3 separate regions of the Homo sapiens genome follow, and all the other regions are reported to be linked to region 1. Evidence: microRNA targets listed by miRTarBase, many of them from high-throughput screens and not tested one by one. Region 1 holds a microRNA gene; each other region holds the end of a gene's coding sequence.

Region 1 (3,149 bases):
TTAGGTAAGGGTGTGAGAGACGCGGGAAGAGGCAAAAGGGAGCCACAAAGGCGTACAGGGAAGGACTTCTTTCTTTCTTTTCCTTATTATTATTATTATTATTTGCAATTTAAGGGGATTGGAGAGTGACTGCCCAGCGTGCGCGAGGGATGCCAGATGAACCGCTAATTAGCAAAAGGTAGTAACTAGAAGGGCGCCCTGTCTGATGGCTGTGGGGCTCAGTTTGGCCAGGTTGGGTTGGCAAATACTATGCATTTTGAGTCAAGTTTGGAGTATTTTTTTTTTAATGGAAAAGAAATCTTCACAGGTGTAGAAACCCAATTTAAGGGGAAAAATGTTATTTTTCTCATTTCTATACTAAATCCATTCTTCCCTAATAGAAAATTGATTCCAGATTGATGTATAAGTTTTATAAATCAGTTTAGTTTGTAAAGACTTCTAAAGACTCATTTAGTGGCATAAGATATCGTGACGAAAGTTCAACATTTAAAATTCCCTCACTCGTTTAACGTATTACAGATTCTGTCCCAAACGTTTTTGTTTTTCTTTTAAACAAAAGTTACCCCATCATGGAAGAGATAGGGGACCCTGTGAGCCTTTTTCACATAGAGGCTCACTTCCTTGCTGTATGTTCTTAGGTAAAATAAGCACTTGGAAATGGGAGAAGGTTTTCTTATGGAAGATAATGACATGAAGGGAAGAAGAGCTAATCTGCCTACTTTGGTTTAATGGAGAAAATGGGTCCATAAATGTTTAAACAGAAGTAGAGCCCTTTGAAATAGATCAAAATGTGACATCTCTCAGCCATCTGTGCATTATGTGAAGACTGTAAGGCTGTGTTTCTTAAACCAGCTCTAAAATTTCTCTCATTTTCTATTAATGGGGTGGGGGCTGGGAATATTCATTTAATCTAACAGTCACTTTCCGTATGGAGCCCAAAAGCTCTGAATGATCTGAAGACTCGAATACTCATCCTGGGTTTTACATGCTCCTTTCTCTAGGTCCTCCTCTTATAAAATCAGGGTGGATAGAATGTGCCTGCAAATTACTGAGATGCAGATATCAAATTTTCTTAGATGGAGAGGGGGAGTCCAAAATCTGCTTATACATAAGAATTGGACTTTTTGCAGTTGCCAGTGTTATTCGTGTTCAATTCTGTGTAAATAATTGAGATTATTAATATTTCTCAGGATTTGGTTGAAACCACAAAACCTAGCTTAGACTCTGTAAGCCAAAGGAAAGCCTGTTTCAGGAATATTAACTAGTAGTTTACTTGTTTAGTTTCTAATATGTGTGTGTTTGTTTTGTTGTTTTAACCAGGTGAGTCTGCATGGATCTGTGAGGACGGAAAAGAAGAGCTCCTGGAAGACTTAAAATTTTGCTACAGGAATAGGCCTTGGCCATGTAAAAGTGCTTACAGTGCAGGTAGCTTTTTGAGATCTACTGCAATGTAAGCACTTCTTACATTACCATGGTGATTTAGTCAATGGCTACTGAGAACTGTAGTTTGTGCATAATTAAGTAGTTGATGCTTTTGAGCTGCTTCTTATAATGTGTCTCTTGTGTTAAGGTGCATCTAGTGCAGTTAGTGAAGCAGCTTAGAATCTACTGCCCTAAATGCCCCTTCTGGCACAGGCTGCCTAATATACAGCATTTTAAAAGTATGCCTTGAGTAGTAATTTGAATAGGACACATTTCAGTGGTTTGTTTTTTGCCTTTTTATTGTTTGTTGGGAACAGATGGTGGGGACTGTGCAGTGTACAGTTGTGTACAGAGGATAAGATTGGGTCCTAGTAGTACCAAAGTGCTCATAGTGCAGGTAGTTTTGGCATGACTCTACTGTAGTATGGGCACTTCCAGTACTCTTGGATAACAAATCTCTTGTTGATGGAGAGAATATTCAAAGACATTGCTACTTACAATTAGTTTTGCAGGTTTGCATTTCAGCGTATATATGTATATGTGGCTGTGCAAATCCATGCAAAACTGATTGTGATAATGTGTGCTTCCTACGTCTGTGTGAACACACCTTCATGCGTATCTCCAGCACTCATGCCCATTCATCCCTGGGTGGGGATTTGTTGCATTACTTGTGTTCTATATAAAGTATTGCACTTGTCCCGGCCTGTGGAAGAAAGGAGGATTTTTATCGTCTTCTTATTTTAACTTTTAAAAGCCGTAAGTTCTGATATTTAGTCATTGTAAAATGATCTGTTTTGCTGTTGTCGGGTGGATCACGATGCAATTTTGATGAGTATCATAGGAGAAAAATTGCACGGTATCCATCTGTAAACCGCAGGACCTTTGTTGGCGACATTCCTGATCAGCGCTACAGTAAGCTAGATGGTAAAAAATCCTTTCTCTAGTTGCTGCTATTAAAAAATAATTTGAAATATATTTGGATTTCTAAAAACTATGATAGCTAATTTATAAAGTATGTGTTTTGGAACTTTGGTGAATGATCAGATTGTTACTGAATGTGAATGAACCTCAAAATAAATGAAATTTATAGATCTGAAAAAATGACTCTTTTTTTTTTAAAAAAAATAATTAGCAATGCTAGAGGAGTTTGTAAAATATCTCTTGGGAGGATCCTAAAGGAAAACTTGGACATAGCTGCTTTTCAAGTTTGCATCTACATAAAGCACCAAGATGCCTAATTTTAGGAATTTTATTACCCTGACAATATTTGGATGACATGTACTAATTTTGTTTTAGTACACGTGCTCATTCTTAGGAAGGGAATGAAGAGTTGTAAACCAATGGGACACATACCTTTAAGGAACTGGGCACATTTTGAGGTCTGACAGGAGAGAAGAATGAACTTGTCAATCAAACTCTGTTTTGGGGTTCTCGGAGAAGAGGATTTGGTGGCAGGGCTACTGAGAGGGATGGCTGCTGCCTTGCTTTGGAGTCTAGCAGATGGAAACCTGGATGTGGGCCTACTGTTAATATTTAGGGTTCGGGGGCTCCATAGGGTGACTAACCTAAAGCAGAAATTTCTCATGCGCAGCTAATTAGTGGTTTGAGACTGAACACCAAAAGTTATTTGGATCCTCTAGTGGTTCTTAAAACTTTAGCACTTACTAAGACACAGCCAGCCAACCCCATCTCCAGAGATTCATTCAATAGGTCTGGATGGGGCCTAA
Region 2 (3,149 bases), not on the chromosome of region 1:
AGTGGGATTGTATCTGTTAGCCAGTGCAGCAGCATTTTACTATGTTTTTGAAATCAGTGAGACTTACAACAGGCTGGCCTTGGAACACATTCAACAGCACCCTGAGGAGCCCCTTGAAGGAACCACATGGACACACTCCTTGAAAGCTCAATTACTCTCCTTGCCTTTTTGGGTGTGGACAGTTATTTTTCTGGTACCTTACTTACAGATGTTTTTGTTCCTATACTCTTGTACAAGAGCTGATCCCAAAACAGTGGGCTACTGTATCATCCCTATATGCTTGGCAGTTATTTGCAATCGCCACCAGGCATTTGTCAAGGCTTCTAATCAGATCAGCAGACTACAACTGATTGACACGTAAAATCAGTCACCGTTTTTTCCCTACGATTACAAAACTGCCAGTCCTATATGGAGTCTGATCACAAGACTGCAGTTTCTTCACAGATCTCAGGAAGTTGTCGTGGGGCAGAGGCTTTTTAAAAACATGTGATTAGGGAGCTATCTTTATCTGAATAATAACGAATTTTTAGGTAAAACCTGAGATAGAGTACTACAAAATCATGTTGATGACTTCAGATTTTGGAAGTTAAATCATGTCTGTTATTTGCATTCTTTAGAAACTTGACTAAGTACCTGAATTCATATTTCTATTCTACTGTGCAACATAGTGATGATTCAGAAATTTTTCCTTTGGGGAAAAAAATGAATATGAACATTTCCATTGTGTTAAGTGTAAAAAGGTCCAGACATGATCATAAAATTTAAATTTTATACAATTACTTGGCTTGCTTTAAAATTCTTCACACTTAAAACACCGATTCATTCTATTGCAGCTAAGCCAGCTGTCTAGACTTGCTGTCAGCTTATGAGGCATTGCTAAAAAATTATTGAGGAAATGGCTGTCTTGATAAGCAGAATTTGTTCTTCCTCTTGGTAATGGCTAAATTATTATTAATGCTTTTAATGGTTTTATTTTTTATATTTTTCTTTTTTGTGGAGAATGGGGTCTCGCTATGTTGCCCAGGCAGGTCTCGAACTCCTGGGCTCAAGCTTTCCTCCTCTCTCTGGCTCCCTAAGTGCTAGGATTACAGGTGTGAGCTACCATGCCCAGCTATTTTTAATTAAAAAAATTTTTTTTTTCCATGACTTGTGACACAGTCTCAGAAGGCCCTGAGAACGTACGCTCCAATGCTACTGATTTAGAAAACTATCTGGGAAGAAACTAAGTGTTAAATGTTGAAAGGCTAGAAATAACTTACAAATAGAAGATGGAAACAATGTGTTCAATGAAAATCTAGCAGGTTATTTATTATTTATTTAAATTATTATTATTATTTTTGAGACGGAGCCTTGCTTTGTCACCCAGGATGGAGTGCAGTGGTGCAGTCTTGGCTCACTGGAACCTTCGGCTCACTGCAACCTCCACCTCTCGGGTTTAAGCGATTCTCTTGCCTCAGCCTCCTGAGTAGCTGGGATTACAGGTGACCACCACCATGCCTGGCTGATTTTTGTTATTTTAGTAGAGACAGGGTTGCAGCATGTTGGCCAGGCTGGTCTCAAACTCCTCACCTAACTAAGGTAATCCACTTGCGTCAGCCTCCCAAAGGCCTGGGATTACAGGCATGAGCCACCATGCCTAGCTGTATTTATTTATGTTATTTATTTTGAGATGGAGTCTTGCTCTGTAGCCCAGACTGGTGTGCAGAAGTGCGATCTCAGCTCACTGCAACCTCCACCTCCCAGGTTCATGCTATTCTCCTGCCTCAGACTCCCGAGTAGCTGGGATTACAGGCACCCACCACCATGCCTGGCTAATTTTTGTATTTTTAGTAGAGACGGGGTTTCACCATGTTGTCCAGGCTGGTCCCGAACTCCTGACCTCAAGTGATACACCTCAGCCTCCCAAAGTACTAGGATAACAGGCATGAGCCACCATGGCCAGCCTATAGCAGGTAATTTAGTCCAGTCCTTATCAGATGCATGAGACCCCTCTAAAAGATGCTATCAAGTCATAATCTTTCTGATTTTCTTTTCTGGCCCAAGGTCAGGTCATCAGGCAGTAGGTTAATTACATGAAGATGTGTTCCTGTACCTTCTCCTTTGCATTTGTACTACCTCACATCTGGTACTAATACAAATAACTAAAACATGGACACAGTAGCATTTCTTTTCTGCATGAGATCAAGATATATTTTTATACAGTTATGTCATTAATACTGGAAAACATTTTATGCTTTTAATAATCAACACTTTTTGATGCTTATTCTGTTGGGCCCTATTCTAAGAGCTTTATGGAAATTAACTAATGTAATCCTCCCAACAACCCTATAAGATGGGTATTATTATCCAGATTTCACAGATAAGGAAACTGAGGCAGAGAAGTCAAGTAACTTGCCAAAGGTCACAGCGAGTAGCAGAGCCAGGGTTATAACCAGGCATTCTAACGCCATCGTTACTAACCACAGAGGCATAGCGCTTCTCACAAATGACAAATGTTTTAGCACTGGGTACTCTTTGCCCAGTCATGCCAAAGAATGGAAATGGCAATAGTATTGACAAGTTTTTCTCTATTTGTCTACTAGAAATCTGAAAGTTTCCTAGCAACCTCATCTTTCCACTACATCTGACTGAACCCGAAAGGAAGGCTGAGTATTCCATAGCAAGCTGTTACTTAAAAGATAAAGCAGGTACCTTTGTGATGTAAAAGTAGCAGATCAGATCCTTCAGATCAATTAGTCTCATTTATCTCACTGCCTCCAAAGGTCTAGTTACTGAAATGATATATCTTTTGATATAACACGTGGAATCCTCAAAGTAAGCAGCAGTTTGAAATACTTGTTTTTGTGAGGGTCAGATGACCAAATCACTTGCATCTTTTAAGTATTCAGTATGCATGTTACAGACATTGTTTATGAGTGATTTACATTTATTCTTCACAACAGTCCTGGGAGGCAGGTATTATACTGCTACTAGTGTCATTTTACAGAAGAAACCTGAAACACGTAGGAATAACTTGTCCATAGTCACATAGCCAGTATGTGAAAGAGCCGATTTGAACCTAGGATGTTGGCTTCAGATCTCCAGCTTTTTATCATTCTATACTGCTTCTCAAAAAGGAGAGTAATTTGAGGGAAATCATTGAGAGTTGC
Region 3 (3,149 bases), not on the chromosome of region 1:
GGCAGGGTCCATGTCTCAGCTAGGATATTTCTCATCATACCTTAACCACTGTTGGGGTCCCTAGCAGGGAACTATCAGCCAAACTGACATTAGCCAACCAGGACCCATTGTGTTACTTGCTCTCTCCATCGGTAATTCACATTTTCTCAGGAGCCATTTGATAGCTGAAATATTTTAAAGCCCCAGAGCTTTCATGCCCTGTGACCAGTTGGCAGGGGTGGGTGGGCTCCCCGCACACCACAGCACCACCTGCAAACTCTCACCACTTTTGCTTGTGCATGGAACTGTGGGATTATAAAATCATCTTATTTTCATTGCAGAAATTTCCAGAATTGAAATTCAAATATGTGGAAGAGGAGCAGCCCGAGGAGTTTTTTATCCCCTATGTCTGGTCTCTTGTCTACAACTCAGCAGTCGGCCTGTACTGGAATCCACAGGACATCCAGCTGTTCACCATGGATTCCGACTGAGGGCAGGATGCTCTCCCACCCGGACCCCTCCAGCCAAGCAGCCCTTCAAGTTCTTTTATTTCTGGGTAACAGAAGTAGACAGACAGGTTACTTGGTGTATCTTCTGTTAAAGAGGATTGCACGAGTGTGTTTTCCTCACACACTTTGATTTGGAGAATTGGTGCTAGTTGGCAATAGATAACTCAGCGTAGATAGTATTGCAAAAAGGGGAGGAAATACACAACAATAATAAATGTAAAAACCTGCTATTCAACATGCAGTTTTATTTCGAAGCCAAAAATCTAGAGCTTTCCCAAGATCCTGTTGCCTTAGGCACATCACACTTCAACAGTGCACACTATCCAACAGTGCACACTATTCAACAGTGCACACTATTCAAAAGCGTAGACTATTTTTTTGCATGTTCAAGATATTTGTTTTGGTCTTATGTGTGTGTGAGAGAGAGAGATTCCTTTGACATTAAGGAGCATCAATGAGAAAAGATGATGAGGCAGGAATTAATAAAGAAATGAAGTCGTGTGTGTTTGGTTGCCTGTCAGAGGGCACACAATTTCATAAACACCATGCCTGGACAATTTGATATTAATATTTAACACCTCTGCATCTTTTCTTAAAAAAGAATATGGGCCAGATACAGTGGCTCACATTTGTAATCCCAGCACTTTGGGGAGCCAAGTTAGCAGAATCCCTTGAGCACAGGAATCTGAAACCAGCTTGGGCAACATAGTGAGATCCCATCTCTACAAAAAACTTAAAAATTAGCCAGGCATGATGGCACATTCCTGTAGTCCTAGCTACTCAGGAGGCTAAGGTAGGAGGATTGCCTGAGCCCAGGAGTTCAAGGCTGCAGTGAGCTAAGAACGTGCCAGTACACTCCAGCCTGAGCCACAAAGTGAGACCCTGTCTCGCAAAAAAAAAAAAAGAAAGAAAAGAAAAAGAAAATGGCTACTTCTCATGAAGCCCAGATTAACTTTTCTGTGAATATGGCCTGTGAACTGTTGCTGGAATTAAATTGGAGTCTAGCACAAATTAAGTTAATCTACTCTGTATTAATCATTGGGAAAAAGAAAAGCTTCATTTGAAAACAGTCTTTTTCCTTCACCCACACTAATAGAAAAAGGAGAGTAATTTGTTCATACTGTATTCCACGTGGGATGAAAAGCATGTTTTGCTCTTTGTTTCTGGGCCGGTGTGATCCGTGTGTTGGTGCCTGAGCTGGAGGAAGGAGCTTCTTGCAGGGAAACAGCCACTGGGGCCACATTGAGGGCCAGTTGGGACCTTCCTTTCCAGTCACACTCTGTGTCCTCACGGGCCCCTTCACAGTCTAGATAAGGAGCCTAGTTTCATTCTCAAAGAAAAAGTATTTGGTCTTCAACATAGAAAGCACAAAAGCCCAGACGAGACTGAGCACACTGTTCGAATCCACTGCCAGCTCATCTGTGTCAGGGCTGGCTTCTCCTGTCCTGTGTCCCAGGGCTGCAGGCCCGTGTTATTTGAGTCCATCAAATCTTCCGAGGGCCTCGGAGGAACCATTCTCAGTCACCCCAAGCTCTGTAAAAGGTCAAAACACTGGCAGCCTCTCAGTGCACCACTGTGTGGGCTCCACACGGGAAGGCCTGGCCAAGCTGTGCTCTTAGAGGCTGTCGAGGTAGGGCAGGAAGCTTCCCTATCCTCGTCTGGATGGAATGAAACAGAGGTTCCCTAAGGCCAAGGGACTCGTGGAGCGCCCATCCCGGGTGGGGTCCCAGAGGTGAGTGCAGCTTGCCTCCTGTCCCCAAGGGGCTTGTTCTGTCAGGCCTCCTCCAGTCACTGCTGGAGTGGGGACTCTGACTCCTGTGTTCACCTCAGAGCCCATGTACAGGCTAGAGGTGAGGCTTGGCAACAACTTCTACTAATACTTAGCTTTGTGGCAGAGCCAGTCTGAAGGAGGAGAAGCGCTCTCAGCCAGCAGGGGGAGTGATGATTATCATTTCAGGTAGCAAGGATATGTATTTACTATGTGGGGAAATAATTTGCAACTTTAATTTGTTTCCAAAGCATTTTGATTGGCTTCCTTTTCCTTTAAACCAAAAAATTGTTTAAATGTTTAAGGGTCATGTGGAACAGCTGAGCTTCTGGCAGGACCACAGAACTGTCCTCTGAGTCTGAGGGCTGGGCAGTGCCACAGGACAGTCCCTGGGCTGCAGGACTGTCAGTGCTTGTTGTGTGAGGAAATGAGGCCCTTCAAAAACCCAGTCATCTTGACAGAGGGCACACTCCCAAGGAAGGCCTGACTGGGGAATCATACAGCCTCTCCTCCAGGCCTCTGGGCTCACTGAGGTGCCCCCAGAACCCTGATTGCCCTCCCCTCTTTCCCTTTTCTCATTCATCACACAGTAGAAGCACTCACTAGCTAACAGCTCAGCTGGGGCAGCAGCCTCCATGGAGGCCTGCAAGTGATGCTCCCAGTCCTGGTTCCCGCTCAGGAGGGAGGCCCCACCACGTGCATCACTGCCTCAGCTCTGCAAAGTCACCAGAGGCTTCTTCCTGATTTTTGTGAAAGATTTATTATATGGCAATAAATCTGAATGATAAACTTTCATTATACTTGCATTAATTTTGAGTATTAGTTTGCTTAGAAATTTTTACACGAAGTAAAAATGTGTAATGATGCAACACAGGATCATCGTGTGTTCAGAT

The links. The annotated mature microRNA hsa-miR-106a-3p reads CUGCAAUGUAAGCACUUCUUAC and lies in region 1 at 1,444-1,465, shown strand. An mRNA with a match to its seed (bases 2 to 7 or 8) in the 3' UTR can be bound and repressed. Matches are read on the target gene's strand: a 7mer-m8 pairs with bases 2 to 8, a 7mer-A1 pairs with bases 2 to 7 and ends in A, and an 8mer does both.
Region 2: the mRNA of LYSET is a reported target of hsa-miR-106a-3p. The part of its 3' UTR that is shown has no 7-base or 8-base seed match.
Region 3: the mRNA of DYM is a reported target of hsa-miR-106a-3p. Seed matches in the 3' UTR shown: 7mer-A1 at 667-673.

The regions. Positions count from the first base shown.
Region 1 is chrX:134,168,524-134,171,672 of GRCh38, reverse strand. It overlaps MIR106A (microRNA 106a), which reads left to right and starts at 1,395; the gene lies at 1,395-1,475. It overlaps MIR106AHG (miR-106a-363 cluster host gene), which reads left to right. Exons shown (of 2, transcript XR_007068340.1): 1 at 1-4; 2 at 1,321-2,523. It overlaps MIR363 (microRNA 363), which reads left to right and starts at 2,221; the gene lies at 2,221-2,295. MIR92A2 (microRNA 92a-2) reads left to right here and starts at 2,061; the gene lies at 2,061-2,135. It also overlaps MIR19B2, MIR20B and MIR18B.
Region 2 is chr14:93,186,311-93,189,459 of GRCh38, forward strand. It overlaps LYSET (lysosomal enzyme trafficking factor), which reads left to right. Exons shown (of 2, transcript NM_001098621.4): 2 at 1-2,153. The coding sequence ends at 361. Among named protein-coding and RNA genes, the nearest start is that of LYSET, 2.6 kb to the left of the region's middle.
Region 3 is chr18:49,041,376-49,044,524 of GRCh38, reverse strand. DYM (dymeclin) reads left to right here. Exons shown (of 18, transcript NM_001353214.3): 18 at 321-3,149. The coding sequence ends at 470. All of the region lies in intron 4 of DYM-AS1 (DYM antisense RNA 1), which reads right to left. Among named protein-coding and RNA genes, the nearest start is that of MIR4744, 6.8 kb to the left of the region's middle. RefSeq lists an enhancer at 1-134.